Linked DNA regions of Homo sapiens: region 1 is linked to region 2. Evidence: fine-mapped expression QTL. Tissue or cell type: monocytes after LPS. Region 2 holds a variant in brackets; the other region holds the start of a gene. All regions are shown on one strand. Distances are from middle to middle.

Region 1 (7,486 bases), 84 kb before region 2:
AACTTCCATATGTAGCTTCTCCCAAAACTGATCTGCTTGAAAACAAGAACTGTGAAGGTTGCCAGGGTTGTTCTGTCTTCTCATCTCCCTTTTCACAATGGTTCTCTGTCTTCCCTTAAAAGACAGGCTCACCTCTCACCTATCATGAGTTTTAAAATCGTATATTTCTCTGGGTGTAGAAACCTCCTGGATGATTTGAAATAATCGATCTGTATTAGTGTTGAGAAAATGAATGACTCTAATATCTGGATATAGGGTTGCCAGGTAAAATACAGAACACCAAACTGAATCTAAATTTCAGATAACTAATGAATAACTTATTAGTATAGCTAGGTGCCAAATATTGCACAATACATTCTTATACTGGAAATGCATTCATTGTTTATATTAAACCAAAATTTAACTAGGTGTTCTCTGTTTTAATTTGCTAACTCTGTCAACTGTATCTGGATACCAAAAGTTCAGTGGTTTCTAAACCACCAATTTCAACAAAATTGAGTTGTCTACTGATAAGTAATTACATATTTTGATTAGAGATCACTAAATGATTTTTGGAATATAAAACATATTTTTTAAATTGTGAAAAAATTGCCATAATAATGTTTCTTCTGGGCCTATCTACTTATCTACTTACTTCTGTGAAATAAGGTTTACAACATTTATGTCTGTAGAAATGAAAAAAGGAACAGAATCTGTGCTGAACCCTAACATATTATAGCTATAGGTAATATTCATGACTGCACACTTGAAAAACTTGCTTAAAATACAAGCTGCCACCCCCTTAAATTGTATTTGTAATGCAGTTATTAACATTTACGATATTTTTATATTGTATTGACCAATTATGCTTTAAAAGTAATGAAAACAATATCAATGATAATGTAATCAAAGAGGATTTTTTTTTTTTTTTTTTGAGATGCAGTCTCACTCTGTTCCAGGGCTGGAGTGCAGTGGCACTGTCTTGACTCATTGCAACCTCTGCCTCCCAGGTTCAAGTGATTCTTGTGCCTCAGCCTCCCAAGTAGCTGGGACTACAGGCGTGCACCACCACACTTGGCTCATTTTTGTATTTTTGGGAGAGACCGGTTTCACCATGTTGGCCAGACTGGTCTTGAACTCCTGACCTCAGATGATCCACCCACCTTCGCCTCCCAAAGTGCTGGTATTATAGGCGTGAGCCACCATGCCTGGTCAAAGAGGAATTTTTTTTTTTTTTAACACTTAGATCCTTATGATCCCAGAGAAAAAAATAGATTTCAAGTTCTAATATGTATTTGTTTCAGAGATATGTGACAGAGAGATGATAAAAGATGTTCAGTACAAACATGTATTAACATTCTGTAGGGGAATTGGAATGTTCAATGACAAAAGGCAATGATAAAATATTTTCAGTTATTAAAGATGACCTGATAATTGCTTCATGGATGATCATGTATGTCAAATTACTATGGTATTAGGATCCATCAAATACATTTAAAAGAGTGCTCTATCAATTTTTTCTGAAAATATCTATGTTTACATTTTGTAGATTCTTGACATGTACAAGAGCTTTATGTTTTAATGTTAAGTTAAAAATGGGCAAGGGAATGCAGAGCTTTTCAAAATTCTTCTGGTGAGTACATAATCAAAAATGTGTAAGGCCTGCAAATTATTTTCAATAATCTCAGGAGTGAGTTGAAAATGGCTTAGAAAGTCTTGATTGAAGCAGACTCAAATGTGGATTAAAATCTCCATATGATAAATACACTTAGTCTTTCTGAAATAATTCCAACTGGAACTTCAGCTGCTATGGACAGCCAAGTCCACCTAAACAAGAGGATGCCTCAGCTCAGTCCAATTGCGTGCAGAATGCACTGGATGCTGTTTCCACAGAACGATGAAGTCTCCAATAATCTTTATGGGCTCTGTCTCTGGTTGGTAATTGTCTTTGATCTACTGGAAGATAGAAAATCAGATGAGCTCTCCAAATCCATCTGTTACCCTGGTACGGATGGCTCTCAGATAAAGTTGCTTAAATTTACTGCTTAGAGAACGTTGAGGGAAATATGGCAGTGCAATTAGACTCAAAGATGTCAGGTTTCCCTGAGAATGGCACTGCAACTCAGAAACCTGCCCTGTGAGATCAAAGGCTATAAAGGAGGGATTTTTTTAAGTAGCCAACTCCACCCTACTTATTAAAAAAAAAAAAAAAACAACTCACCAAACCAAACAAAAGTATTTCCATACAGAAAATTTACCAAGCCATTTCAATCTTTAAAATGGTAAAATAAACTGCAAAGGAGAACTGCATGATTTTTTTCACATACCCCTACATTTCCTTTCACCTCTTACTTTCTTGATCAGAACAAAAAGTAAAAATAAATAGAAATATTTCACAAAGTTTCGATTTTTTTTTTTTTAAATGCTGGACTTCTGCAGCTATAGTAGAAGATTGAAAAACCTAACCTTTTTACGTGTAAAGTGTATGGCGGATGGAGGGTGGAGAACAGGGCATATTGACCTTTTCCAGGCAGGCTAAGCAATGATCGTCCTCTCTATATGGGTTGTTATCAAGATTTCCTCTGACCCACGAGCAATGAAGCAAATGTCTTTCAGTAAATGCCGCGAAGATATGCCACGGTTAAGAGTCATGCTTTTGGGTCATGGAAATCCCCGAGTGGGTTTGCCAGGCCACTGATTAAGAGGAAGTGTGTGTGGTTATTACCGCTGGAGTTCCCCTAAGTCCTAAAAGGAAAGCACCAGTGCACATGCAAACCACTGGGAGGAGTGCGGAACGCCTGGTACAGATAGGGGTGGGGATTTGGGTGACGCATTTAAAAGACAGCGTGAGACTCGCGCCCTCCGGCACGGAAAAGGCCAGGCGACAGGTGTCGCTTGAAAAGACTGGGCTTGTCCTTGCTGGTGCATGCGTCGTCGGCCTCTGGGCAGCAGGTGGGCAAGGAAGGCTGGTGTGTGTGTGTGTGTGTGTGCGTGTGTGTGTGTGTATGTGTGCGCGCGCGCGCGCCTCCCCTGGTGTAAGAGATGTGCCAGCGGCTGGCCGAGGGGCGCTTAGGGCTAGAGCCCGGGGCGCTGCAGAGGTTGAGAGTCAGTGGGTGGGGCGCAGTTATCAAACACCAGGGCCCAAAAGCAGGCTCTAGATAGGTTCCAGGTGCTCAATTTCTATTTCACGTTTGGAGTGAGCCAGTGGAATTGTGAAGTTGTGGCATTTTGATTCGGTTGCCAAGAGTTATCACTGGGCCTTTGCAGGTGCCAAATAAATTTCAGGACAGAGCCTAAGGCAGAGCTCTGGCACAGGAAGGAAGTAAAACGTTTAATGAGCAAATGGACGCATGTTTCCAAGCGGTGGTAGGAAGACAGCAGTTTTTGGTTGTCTTCCTGGTGATCAGCATGGAAACCTAGTAGTGCTCTTACTCTGATCAATACATTGTCGAAGGCATGTACCTGATGCTAACGTAACAATAATATTAAATATTGACTTTATTTGCTATTATTTATTGCTAACATTAAGTACTGCTACCTGCTATGTGCTAGGTTTGTCTCTGAAGACTTTACATGTATTTTTCACGTTTAATTATCATAATCTTAAGAAGCAGGTACCATAATTATCTCCATTTGACAATGAGGAAACTGAGGCTCTTGGAGATTTACTTGTGCAAGGTCATGCTTCTGGTTACCGGACTGCTTGGTATTGGGCACCCCCGATGTCTGACTCCAAAGCCTGATACTAATCAATCACTGAGCTGACTCTGTGGTCATTAATATAAAATTGATAGAAGTACTGTGGTCACTCAGGTCTCAGTCATTTACTTCTTCAACGGGAAGTCTTCGTGTCTACCCCATATACCAAGCTCTGCAGATGCTATGAGTGGGAGGGCAGGTACAGAGATGAAACATATTAATAGTTGCCATTCTAAAAGAGCTTACTGTCTAGCGGGAGGCAGAAAGAAAAGGCACACTTGCCCTCCAGTGTCAGAAAAATGGATGTGCTGCATGCCCAAAGGGTAGGGATGCCCAACAGCCCTGGGACTGGGGAGGTTGCCTTCTTGGTAGGTTAAATGAATGAGTCAGAAGAGGAGAGGCTGGGGACTGAGCCAATCTGAGAAGGAACCACTAGAAATGAAAGAAGAATCCCAAGAGCTTGGTATCAGAGAAGCCCAGGGAATGGGACATTTCTAAGAGGAAGTGTGTCCCAGTGTCAGATGCAAACATTTCCATTGGTTTTAGCAAAAAAGCCATTGGTGTTATTAACACCGAAAGCAGTTTTAAGTGATGCTGACTTAATGAGTAAATGGGAGAGGGAAAATGGAGACATTAACCATACACACATGTCCAGTTTGCTTGGCTGTGAAGAGAAGGGGTGATACAGGGTAGTTGCTAGAGTGGAAAGTGTGGTTGAAAGAGGATTTTTTTTTTTTTTTTTTGAGACAGAGTCTCACTCTGTCACCCAGGCTGGAGTGCAGTGGTGCAGTCTCGGCTTACTGCAACCTCCACCTCCCGGGTTCAAGCGATTCTCCTGCCTCAGCCTCCTGAGCAGCTGGGACTACAGGTGCATGCCACCACACCCGGCTAATTTTTTGTATTTTTTTTAGTAGAGACGGGGTTTCACCGTGTTAGCCAGGATGGTCTCAGTCTCCTGACCTCGTGATCCACTCGCCTCAGCCTCCTGAAGTGCTGGGATTACAGGCATGAGCCACCACACCCGGCCGAAAGAGAATTTTAAAAATTTCTTTCATTTGAAAGTTGAGATAGATTTAAGCATGGTTATGTGAAAGGAAAAAGGCCAGTCGAGAGTGACAGGAATGAGAGTTGAAGCAATGAGGGGATGGGATTAAGAACAAGATTTCTGAGGCAGTAGGACAGTGTAGGATCCCATAAGGGGGCAAGTCTTTAACTGAGACAGCAAGTAGGTTGTGAGCCAAAACGGCTTGGATATGAGAACGTGAGAAGGTTCCTGCTCAATGATGTCTCTTTTCTTTGAGAAACAGAAGGCAAAGTAATTGACTGAAAATGAGATGGAGTGCAGTGGAGAAATTTGAGGAAGGTGTTGAAGGTTTAGAAGAGGTGCATAGGGCATGGGCTAGGGAGCTGAGCCTATTGCTAAGGGATGGCAGAGGAGTCTTAAGTGATGCTGGTCCCAGTCTGCAGGGTTGCATCTAGGTGTTGGAAATGATTAGGACAGAGGTTGAAGTGATCTAGGGTTGACATCTTGGCATATTTGTGTATATTTATTGTATAGTTGTTGCCTAAATTTCCACAAATATATGCCTTGCTGGAGTGCAGTGGTGTGATCTTGGCTTACTGCAACCTTCACCTCCCGGGTTCAAGTGATTCTCCTGCTTCAGTCTCCTGAGTAGCTGGAAATACAGGTGCGTGCCACCACGCCCGATGGTTTTTTTTTTTGGATTTTTAGTAGAGACAGGGTTTCACCATGTTGGCCAGCCTGGTCTCGAACTCCTGATCTCAAGTTATCTGCTTTCCTTGGCCTCCCAAAGTGCTGGGATTACAGGCGTGAGCCACCACGCCTGACCTAAAGCTTCTTTAGGATAAGATTTGTGTAAGGGGTTTGCAAACTCAAATGGAGGTGATATAAATGAGAAAAACTCTCAGTGTCTCTCTTTCTCTCTCTCTCTCTTTTTTTGAGACAGGGTCTTGCTCTGTCACCCAGTTTGGAGTGCAGTTATGCAGTCTCACACTGCAAGCTCTGCCTCATGGGCTCAAGTGAACCTCCTGCCTCAGCCTCTCAAGTAGCTGGGACCACAGGCAGGTGCCACCATGTCTGGCTAATTTTTGAGTTTCTTTGTAGAGATGGTGTTTTGCCAAGTCACCCAGTTTGAGGCTGGTCTCAAACACCTGGGCTCAAGCAATCCATCTACCTCAGCCTCCCAAAGTGCTGGGATTACAGGAGTGAGCCATGGCATGAGGCCTTGTGGGGTGTCTCTTTTAAATGAAAGCATACTCTGTTTACGTATTTGATATGAAGGAATATCCTTCCTTTCCACAAAGACAAAAATTATCCTATTTTTCTCAAAACATATGTCCTTTTTCTCTACTTTTCATTTTTGTTACTTTTGATGGACACATGTGTTACATTGATTTCACTTTCTCATAATTCTGCTGTAAGAAAAACAATAGTGCCAGTTCAATGACAAATAGCAACAGTCTGTTATTGCTAGACTGTTACTGTTAGTGGAGACTACCAGAACAGTCAGTCCCAGTGTCAGGGAATCAAAGAGAACATGTTCCCTCTCTAAAGGGCACAGCTGCTGCTCAGCTTTAGCTGATTGCTGCCCTGCAGGACTATAGGCCCAGTGTTGCTAGATCTTTTGATGTTTCAAGAGAAGCTTGGAATCTAGAATGTGATGGGAAGTCTCTTACATTTAAACATGTTGGCAATTAATGGTAAGATTTAAAAATACTGTGGTCCAAGAAAAAAATGGATTTGGAAACTGGATTAAATTCAAATGAGGCATGCAGATTAATCTACAGCATGGTACAATGTGAATTTTCTGGTTTCTTTAATTGCACTGTAATTAGGTAAGATGTTAGCTTTGGGGAAGCTAAGTGCAGAGTATGCAGAAACTATTATTTTTGTAAGCTTTCTCTAAGTATAAATAAATTTCAAAATAAAAATAAAAACTTAGTAAAGAACTATAATGCAATTCTATGTAAGCCAAACATAATATGTCTTCCAGTTTGAAACCTCTGGGTTTTATTTTATTTTATTTTATTTTTGAGACAGAGTCTTGCTGTGTCACCCAGGCTGGAGTGTAGTGGCACTATTTCGGCCCACTGCAACCTCCACCTCCCAGGCTCACATGATTCTCCTGCCTCAGCCTCCGGAGTAGCTGGGATTACAGGCGCGTACCACCACACCCAGCTAATTTTTGTATTTTTAGTAGAGATGGGGTTTCACCATTTTGGCCAGGCTGGTTTTGAACTCCTGACCTCAAGTGATCCACTTGTCTTGGCCTCCCAAAATGCTGGGATTACAGGCGTGAGCCACTGCACCAGGCAGAGGCCTCTGTTTTTTATCTCTTTTTGGCCTCTACAGTGCCTAGTAAAGCACCTGATACATGGTAAACGATCAGTAATTACTAGTACTCTATTTTGGAGAAAATGATTTTTTAAAAAGTCATTGTGTTCCATCCATGAGTCGTTTGAGTTTTAAAACTGTCTTTTTGTTTGTTTTTGAACAGGTTTACAAAGGAGGAAAACGACTTCTTCTAGATTTTTTTTTCAGTTTCTTCTATAAATCAAAACATCTCAAAATGGAGACCTAAAATCCTTAAAGGGACTTAGTCTAATCTCGGGAGGTAGTTTTGTGCATGGGTAAACAAATTAAGTATTAACTGGTGTTTTACTATCCAAAGAATGCTAATTTTATAAACATGATCGAGTTATATAAGGTATACCATAATGAGTTTGATTTTGAATTTGATTTGTGGAAATAAAGGAAAAGTGATTCTAGCTGGGGCATATTGTTAAA
Region 2 (7,486 bases):
TTTCCTTAAATGATGGCATCATGTTCATCTCTGTAATATATTAAAAGTTACAATTACTTTGTTTTGTTTTTTCTGTCAAAACTACTTATGTTCCTATTTGTTAGTAAAGTAGGATTAGAACAATTTCAAGCTGCACAATCAAAATGGTCAGTGTTCTGTGTAAAGTTCCTTAAGTATCCAATATACTGTAGTGGTTAAAGATCTGGGGGTTAATGGCATGGGGATCCACCATCTTGTCTTGCTGCAATCATAGACACAGACATAGCTTCTATTTGTAAGTCCCTATTAAATATTTCTTTCTAGCTGGTCACAGTGGCTCATGCTTATAATCCCAGAACTCTAGGAGGTCAGAAAGGAGGATCACTTGAGCCCAGGAGTTTGAGACCAGCCTGGGCAAAACAGTGAGACTACCATCTCTATAAAACATTTAAAAATTAGCCTGGTGTGGCATTGCATGCTTGTAGTCCCAGCTACTCAGCAGGCTGAGGTAAGAGGATCACTTAAGCTCAGGAGGCTGAGGTTGCAGTGACCCGTGATCGCACCACTGCACTCCAACCTGGGTGACAGAGCCACTGCAAAGCACTCTGTTTAGTCATGGTTTCTTTTATGTATTCTTTCATGTATTGACCTTAAAAAAGAATGTTTCTGAATATGCCTTTAATCTGACAAACCACCACCTTAATATTCTTTTAAAATCAGTTTGAGCCTACAGCCATGCCACTGTGAATGTGTCTGATCTCATGTGATCATGGAAGCTAAAGTGAGTTTGATATGATAAATATATGCAACGTAACTTTAAATATAACTTTTAAAAATATGTTTTTAAGGCCAGATATGGTGGCTCACGCCTGTAATCCCAGCACTTTGGGAGGCCAAGGTGGGAGGATCACCTAAGGTCAGGAGTTTGAGACCAGCCTGGCCAACATGGTGAAACCCCATCTCTACCAAAAATACAAAAATTAGCTGGGCGTGGTGGTAGGCACCTATAATCCCAGCTACTGGGGAGGCTGAGGCAGGAGAATAGCTTGAACCCAGGAGGCAGAGGTTGCAGTGAGCCGAGATCGTGCCATTGCACTCCAGCCTGGGCAACAAGAGGGAAACTCCATCTCAAAAAAAAAAAAAATCTGTTCTTAAATTATCATTTTTGTTTAAGTATTAGTAATATAACTGTTAGATCCAATTTTCATTTATGATGCGATGTTTATTTAGAGCTTATGTCAGTAACCTGAAAATCTGGGAAACTTCCATGTTCTTAAAATCTATCAAGAAGTTTGATTTACTTTTATGTGTACTGAATCATATGTAGTGTCAAAACTGGAAGATTCCAATGGCCTATTCCAACATTTCCCAAAATGTGTTCCACACAATACTAGTTCCAAGAGATAGACAGTGTTAGCTCCCATTGAAGAGGGGCAGGGGGAGGGATTTATTCATTCAACAAGTATTTTGGTTAAAAATTTGGGAAACAGTTCATACTGTATTCCATCCTGGAAAATCATAATGTATATCAATATTTTAAAGGCTTAGAGAAGTCTTATAGTAAACTGTCTTAGTTTACTTTAGTCAACTGAACATTTCCCACACTTTTTGATATAGGAACTGTGTGTGTGGGACACATGTATGTCAAATGTTAACCCACAGGGCAAATTTTGGAAAACAGTCATCTGTTCTATGGTATTTATATACATTAACACTAAAAAAAGTGAATTAGCTCTTACATTTGTGTCACCCAATATGAGTATGTTGAAACCCTAATCCCAGTGTGATGATATTTTGAAGTGGGGCCTTGGGAAGGTAGTTAGGTCGTGAGGGTGGAACCCTCGTGAACAGAATTAATACCCTTACAATTAGAGGTCAGAGAACTAGCTCGCCTTCTTTCTGCCATGTGAAGAAGGCCCTTACTAGAACTCAACCATGGTGGCACCCTGATCTTGGACTTCCAAGCCTCCGGAAGTGTGAGAACTAAATGTCTGCTGTTTAAGGCACCCAGCTGTATGATACTTTGTTGTGTCAGCATGAACTAAGACAACACGTAAGACTCAAAAAAACAAAAACAAAAAGGACTATTGGAGCAACAAAAGTTTGGATATATCCTCAAACCATCAGACCTATAGAGCTACATGTAGAGTAAACATGGATTAGGTCTTGTTGATAATGCACATCTAAAAAGAGAGTTTTGCTACAGGTAAAATGATAAATTATATTATTTATACTAACCACTCATTTAAATTTTCAGGGATAATGAGGCTGTCAGAGGAATTTTTTTTGTCTTTGTCGTGGAAAACAAAAGCCATGGTTTTACCAAGGATGCTATTTAGTACCACAACAGACACAGACATACTAAGTCAAAAGCCTGCTGGGAACTGGTATTTCTTACGATTATTGGTATGAGTAAGTGAAAATTTCAGGGTAGGTTAACTTTGGTCTCCTGTAAAGTGTGTTTGACACTAGTAAAATACATTTTTTTAAGTATATACATCCATTTTCATTTGCAAATAATTATAATCACAAGCTTGTACATAAACAATTTACTTTGGGCCAAAAGGGTTAATGGGAATATAACTCATAAATCTATCAATTATTCATCCCTGAGATGAGCACTGGCTTGATATTCTATCATAATTAAAGATGTGCACCAACAATTTTTTTTAAAAAGTCCTGGCCATTCAAAACTTACATGGTTCGATACCGAATGCCTCTTCTTGAGTAATACATTTTGCATCCAATGTAAAGAATAGATAAAACTCCCAGCGTTAATACAATACCACCAACAAAGCTCCCAGTATCAAATTTTGATCCTTTCTTTGCTTCAGAATGCATAGTTGTTGTGACTAGAACAAAAGAAAACAAAAAAGGGCTTTAGCGTTATTTTTTTTTTTTTAACATTGTAATTAAAGCTCTCTGATTTTCTGTGTTAAGAACATTTAATTAGGAATTAAGGGAAATCTAGGCATATAAAGTTTCTATATTATTTTTGCCAGACAGAATAATGACTTAAATGTGGCATTTAACTACTTGCAGCATAGGAAAAAAAAGGTCAGCTTTAATACATACTTGTTACTGATGAAGCAGCAGATGTCACTGAACTATTGTGGGTTACGGTCATTGTGGATGTTGATATCTGAGATGTGTTCTGTGAAACACTTGTTGTTTTGGGTGTAGACTTTAAGGTGGTAGAAGTCATATTTGTTGAGACCATCCCTGGTGTTGTTGTATTAGATGCCGCTGTAGGTTTCATGGTGGTGACCGTTGTATTACTGGAGTCTGAGGCAACTGAAGTTGGTGGTTTCA[C/T]AGTACTGTTGGAAGTTTCATTTGTATGGTCAGAAGGCACATGTTGGAGAGTCTCTGCAATAATATCAAGAAACATTAAAACCAGAGCTATGATTTAGGGAATAAGATCCCATTTCACTGAGACTTTCATGGTCACAGACAAAGCAAGAGATCTTACAAATACAGCAGCATTTAACATACTTAGCCCATTAATACTTTGCACTATACTGCAATAAAATGTCTCAAACTAGTAAAAGACTCAACAGAAACCAAGTCTAAATTTATATAAAGTTAGAAATTTTGGGGAAGATATGAAGAAAAAAAAAAACAACCCAGAAGACAGAGTTCCCTCAGTGCAGGGACATGTCTTAATCATCTCTGTCTGAACATCTCAACGTATTTCATATCACATAATAGGCTTTCAACAAATATCTGTTGAATGGATGGATAAACTAATGAATATAAAAATGGTTTTTAAATTTCCAGTTCTCTGCTATACCTTCCAAGGGGCTTTGAGGACAATAAATCAGTAGCTGCATGTTTCTAACCCTCCTGGTAGAATGGGAAGTCCAAGTGAGTTATTTTTTGTAAAAGTAAAGCCAACTTCCCACTATGCATTAGGAAGTGAGATACCATCACAGAATGTGGCTAGCTGTCATACTGGTAATAATAATTTCCCATAGTTGGAAGGACAGTTCTAAAACTATCTGTGAAAGTTTTACAAGTCCAAAAGCCAATTTTGTATGAAAAGAAAAATTAGTGATTTAAAATACACAACTCAAACAATACCTTTGCTCATACCTGCAACTGAGTTTTTCTTTTTTGGGGGGTATAATGTAAACAGAAACATATAGGTACAGATCTTGTTAATGCTCCTTAACTTCTTTTTTGTTTTTTGAGATGGAGTTTCACTCTGTCACCCAGGCTGAAGTGCAGTGTCAAGATCTCGGCTCAATGCAACCTCCGCCTCCTGGGTCCAAGTGATTCTCCTGCCTTGACCTCCTGAGTAGCTGGGATTACAGGTGCCTGCTACCATGCTGGCTAATTTTTGTATTTTTAGTAGAGACAAGGTTTTACCATGTTGGCCAGGCTGGTCTTGAACTCCTGACTTCAAGTGATCTGCTCGCCTCAGCTTCCCCAAGTGCTGGGATCACAGGCATGAGCCACCGTGCCCGGCCAATACTCCTTAAAATAAACTTCGATTACTTTTGTTTTCATCCAGCAAAGGTTTCCTTCTTTTTGCATAAAATATGGCCTATAACCAGAAGCAAACCTTTCTGTGTTAATTTTATTTCATACTGCATCTTCTTTTTAACACGACAATTTAACTAACGTTTACAACTATAGGTACCTATTAGGATACAATGTCTAGGGAATGAAAGCTTTTAATATGTCTTTGTCCATTTAATATGATGTAATATATTTCTGTATTCATTTCCTGTCTCATAGTTTATTTTCAGGTTTTTTGGTTTCCTATGTTGCCTACTGCTATGGTTTGGATTTGGTTTGTTTGTCCCTATCAAAACTCATATTGAAATTTGATCTCCAATGTGGCGGTCTTGGGAGGTGGGGCCTAGTGGGAGTTGTCTGGATCATGGGGGCAGATCCCTCATAAATGGCTTGATGCCCTTCACGTGGTAGTGAGTGAGTTCTCATTCTGGCAAAACTGGATCAGTTCCTGTGGAAATGAGTTCCCATGAAAGGGGGTTGTTATAAAGCCAGGATGCTCCTCGGGTTTTCTATCTTTGCAGTTACCCACTTCCCCTTTGACCTTCTCGGCCATGTTGTGGCACAGCTTTATAAAAGCCCTCCCCAGAAACCAGGGCTTGCAGAACTTTCCCAGCCTGCAGAACCTTGAGCTAAATAAACATTTTCTTTATCAATTACCTAGTCTCAGGTATTCCTTTATAGCAACACAAAATGTACTAAGACACCTTTATACTCCCATTTTATTATATATGTCCACATACTTAAGGTACACAGAATTAACCACTGGACCTGCTTTCTCCTTTCCCCCAGTGAGAGCAGTACCAATGCCTTAGGTTCCTTGCCCCGCCACTGTTGTCAAGTACCAAAAGTGATACTTCATATATTATCCTATCTTCCACAACTATTTTGGCCTTATTCTTGAAAGACAGACAGATTGATATTTATTTATTTATTTAACTTAGAGACAAAGTCTTACTCTGTCACCCAGGCTGGAGTGCAGTGGCATGATCTCGGCTCAGGGCAACCTCCGCCTTCTGGGTTCAAGCGATTCTCGTGCCTCAGCCTACTCAGTAGCTGGGATTACAGGCACATGCCACGACGCCTGGCTAATTTTTGTATTTTTAGTAGAGACAGCGCTTCACCATGTTGGCCAGGCTCGTTTCAAACTCCTGACATCAGGTGATCCGCCCACCTCAGCCTCTCAAAGTGCTAGTACTACAGGTGTGAGCCCCTGCACCTGGCCCCTATATGTATTTATTATTGTTATTACTATTTTTGAAACAGTCTTGCTCTGTCCCCCAGGCTGGAGGGCCGGTGCCTGCGATCTCGGCTCACTGTAACCTCTGCCTCCCAGGTTCAAGCAATTCTCCTGCCTCAGCCTCCTTAGTAGCTGGGATTACAGGCATGCACCACCAAGCCCACCTAATTTTTGTACTTTTAGTAGAGACGGGGTTTTGCCATGTTGGCCTGGCTGGTCTTGAACTCCTGACCTCAGGTGATCTGCCTGCCTTGGCCTCCCAAAGTGCTGGGATTACAGGCTAAGCCACCATGCTCGGCCCCAGCTATATTTATTTTTGACTTAACTGTCAAAACAAGTTGGTTTTAATAGTGCTGCTTACTTGCATATCGGGTTTTACTACTGGAATTTCTACTACTTTCTTCAACTTTGGGTCTCTGTGATCTCTTCTACTGAGTATGACCTATTTTCTTTTTTCTTTTTTTTTTTGAGACAGAGTCTTGCTCTGTTGCCCAGGCTGGAGTGCAGTGGCGTGATCTCAGCTCATTGCAAGCTCCGCCTCCCAGGTTCACGCCATTCTCCTGCCTCAGCCTCCTGAGTAGCTGGGACTACAGGCGCCCACCACCACGCCTGGCTAATTTTTGTATTTTTATTAGAGACGGGGTTTCACCTTGTTAGCCAGGATGGTCTCGATCTGATCTCCTGACCTTGTGATCTGCCCGCCTCAGCCTCCCAAAGTGCTGGGATTACAGGTGTGAGCCACCGTGCCCGGCCTGATCTATTTTCTTAATAAGGCCAAAGGAATTAACGCTTTTATACTACATAGGCAAATAAATAATAAATATCCAAGTAGGTAATACAAATGCACTAAGTTCAAATGAACTTGAACTAATCTTTTCTTATTCAAGTCTGAATGTTCTATAGAGATATAAGTAATAGAATTTAACATTAAAATAATCACCTTTTATTTAAAAATGCTGAATGGATTCTATTGCAATGAAATTAAATACAGCAAAGAACCAACGTTTATATCCTATCTTTAGAATAGAATGATCCCGCAGAATAAAACAATGAACACAATGCTGCTTTCGGATTCAACACACACACACACCCCTCCCCCTGCCCTCTGGTATAATAAAACATTCTTCAAAGATACTGTACAAAGTCACATGGGCCAAAATAGGAAGCTATAATAGGTTAGTTCTCCGCTAAGTCAATCCAAATGTGCTAAAGAAACAAAAAATTTTGTCAATTTCTATGTCAATTTCTTTGTCGATTTCTATGAATTGACAAAACAGGCAAAAGGAAATTTTGCATTAAACTGTGTTTCCTGATGCTTTTAAGCATAAATGAAATGCAAGGATGCTCTCCAAATTCACATTGGATGACCCAATCTTCTTCTGTAATAAGTAAATAGTCACTTGTTTTCCTCTGCAAATGATACCATCCCAACTCTGGTCTTCTTCCCTCTCCCTTAACTGTTGAAATGCTGACTGGCACCTCTAGGAGTGGCACAGTTAACACCTGCAAAGAGATGCAGAATGGACCATCCCTGTGGGACTTGCAAGGGGTGAAGCTTTATCTAAGTCTGCCCATCTTAGCCACTCAGTCTCCTCCAGCCTCCGATAAGCTAAGGTTGAAGAATCTGAGGCGCATATGTTGCTGGAGGGTGTCAGTGTGCAGGGTGTCCACTCCCTCCTCTGTCTATGGGGGTAAAGAGGAGAATGCCATCCTCCACCTTACACCAGCCTGGGAAGGCTTCTAGGGCAC

Alleles and levels. Alleles are on the strand shown, and positions count from the first base shown. SD is a standard deviation of normalised expression in the study named.
In carriers of allele C in region 2, the expression in monocytes after LPS of the gene that starts at base 2,844 in region 1 tends to be higher than with T alone (large effect, 1.3 SD a copy in Kim-Hellmuth 2017).

Evidence for each region. PIP is the estimated chance that this variant, and not a neighbour inherited with it, causes the effect.
Region 1: BIRC3 starts here. The variant in region 2 is fine-mapped to the expression of BIRC3 in monocytes after LPS (Kim-Hellmuth 2017, PIP 0.95).

What each region holds. Positions count from the first base shown.
Region 1 is chr11:102,314,641-102,322,126 of GRCh38, forward strand. It overlaps BIRC3 (baculoviral IAP repeat containing 3), which reads left to right and starts at 2,844. Exons shown (of 9, transcript NM_001165.5): 1 at 2,844-2,931; 2 at 7,197-7,486. LOC124902739 (a long non-coding RNA gene) reads right to left here and starts at 2,603. Exons shown (of 2, transcript XR_007062864.1): 1 at 2,446-2,603; 2 at 1,255-1,932. RefSeq lists enhancers at 2,291-3,490, 2,395-2,464, 2,475-2,834, 3,636-3,835, 4,096-4,145 and 2 more.
Region 2 is chr11:102,398,862-102,406,347 of GRCh38, forward strand. TMEM123 (transmembrane protein 123) reads right to left here. Exons shown (of 5, transcript NM_052932.3): 3 at 3,055-3,345; 4 at 2,678-2,831; 5 at 1-30. The coding sequence ends at 6. Among named protein-coding and RNA genes, the nearest start is that of TMEM123, 50 kb to the right of the region's middle. The variant C/T (reference allele first, on the strand shown) is at 3,292.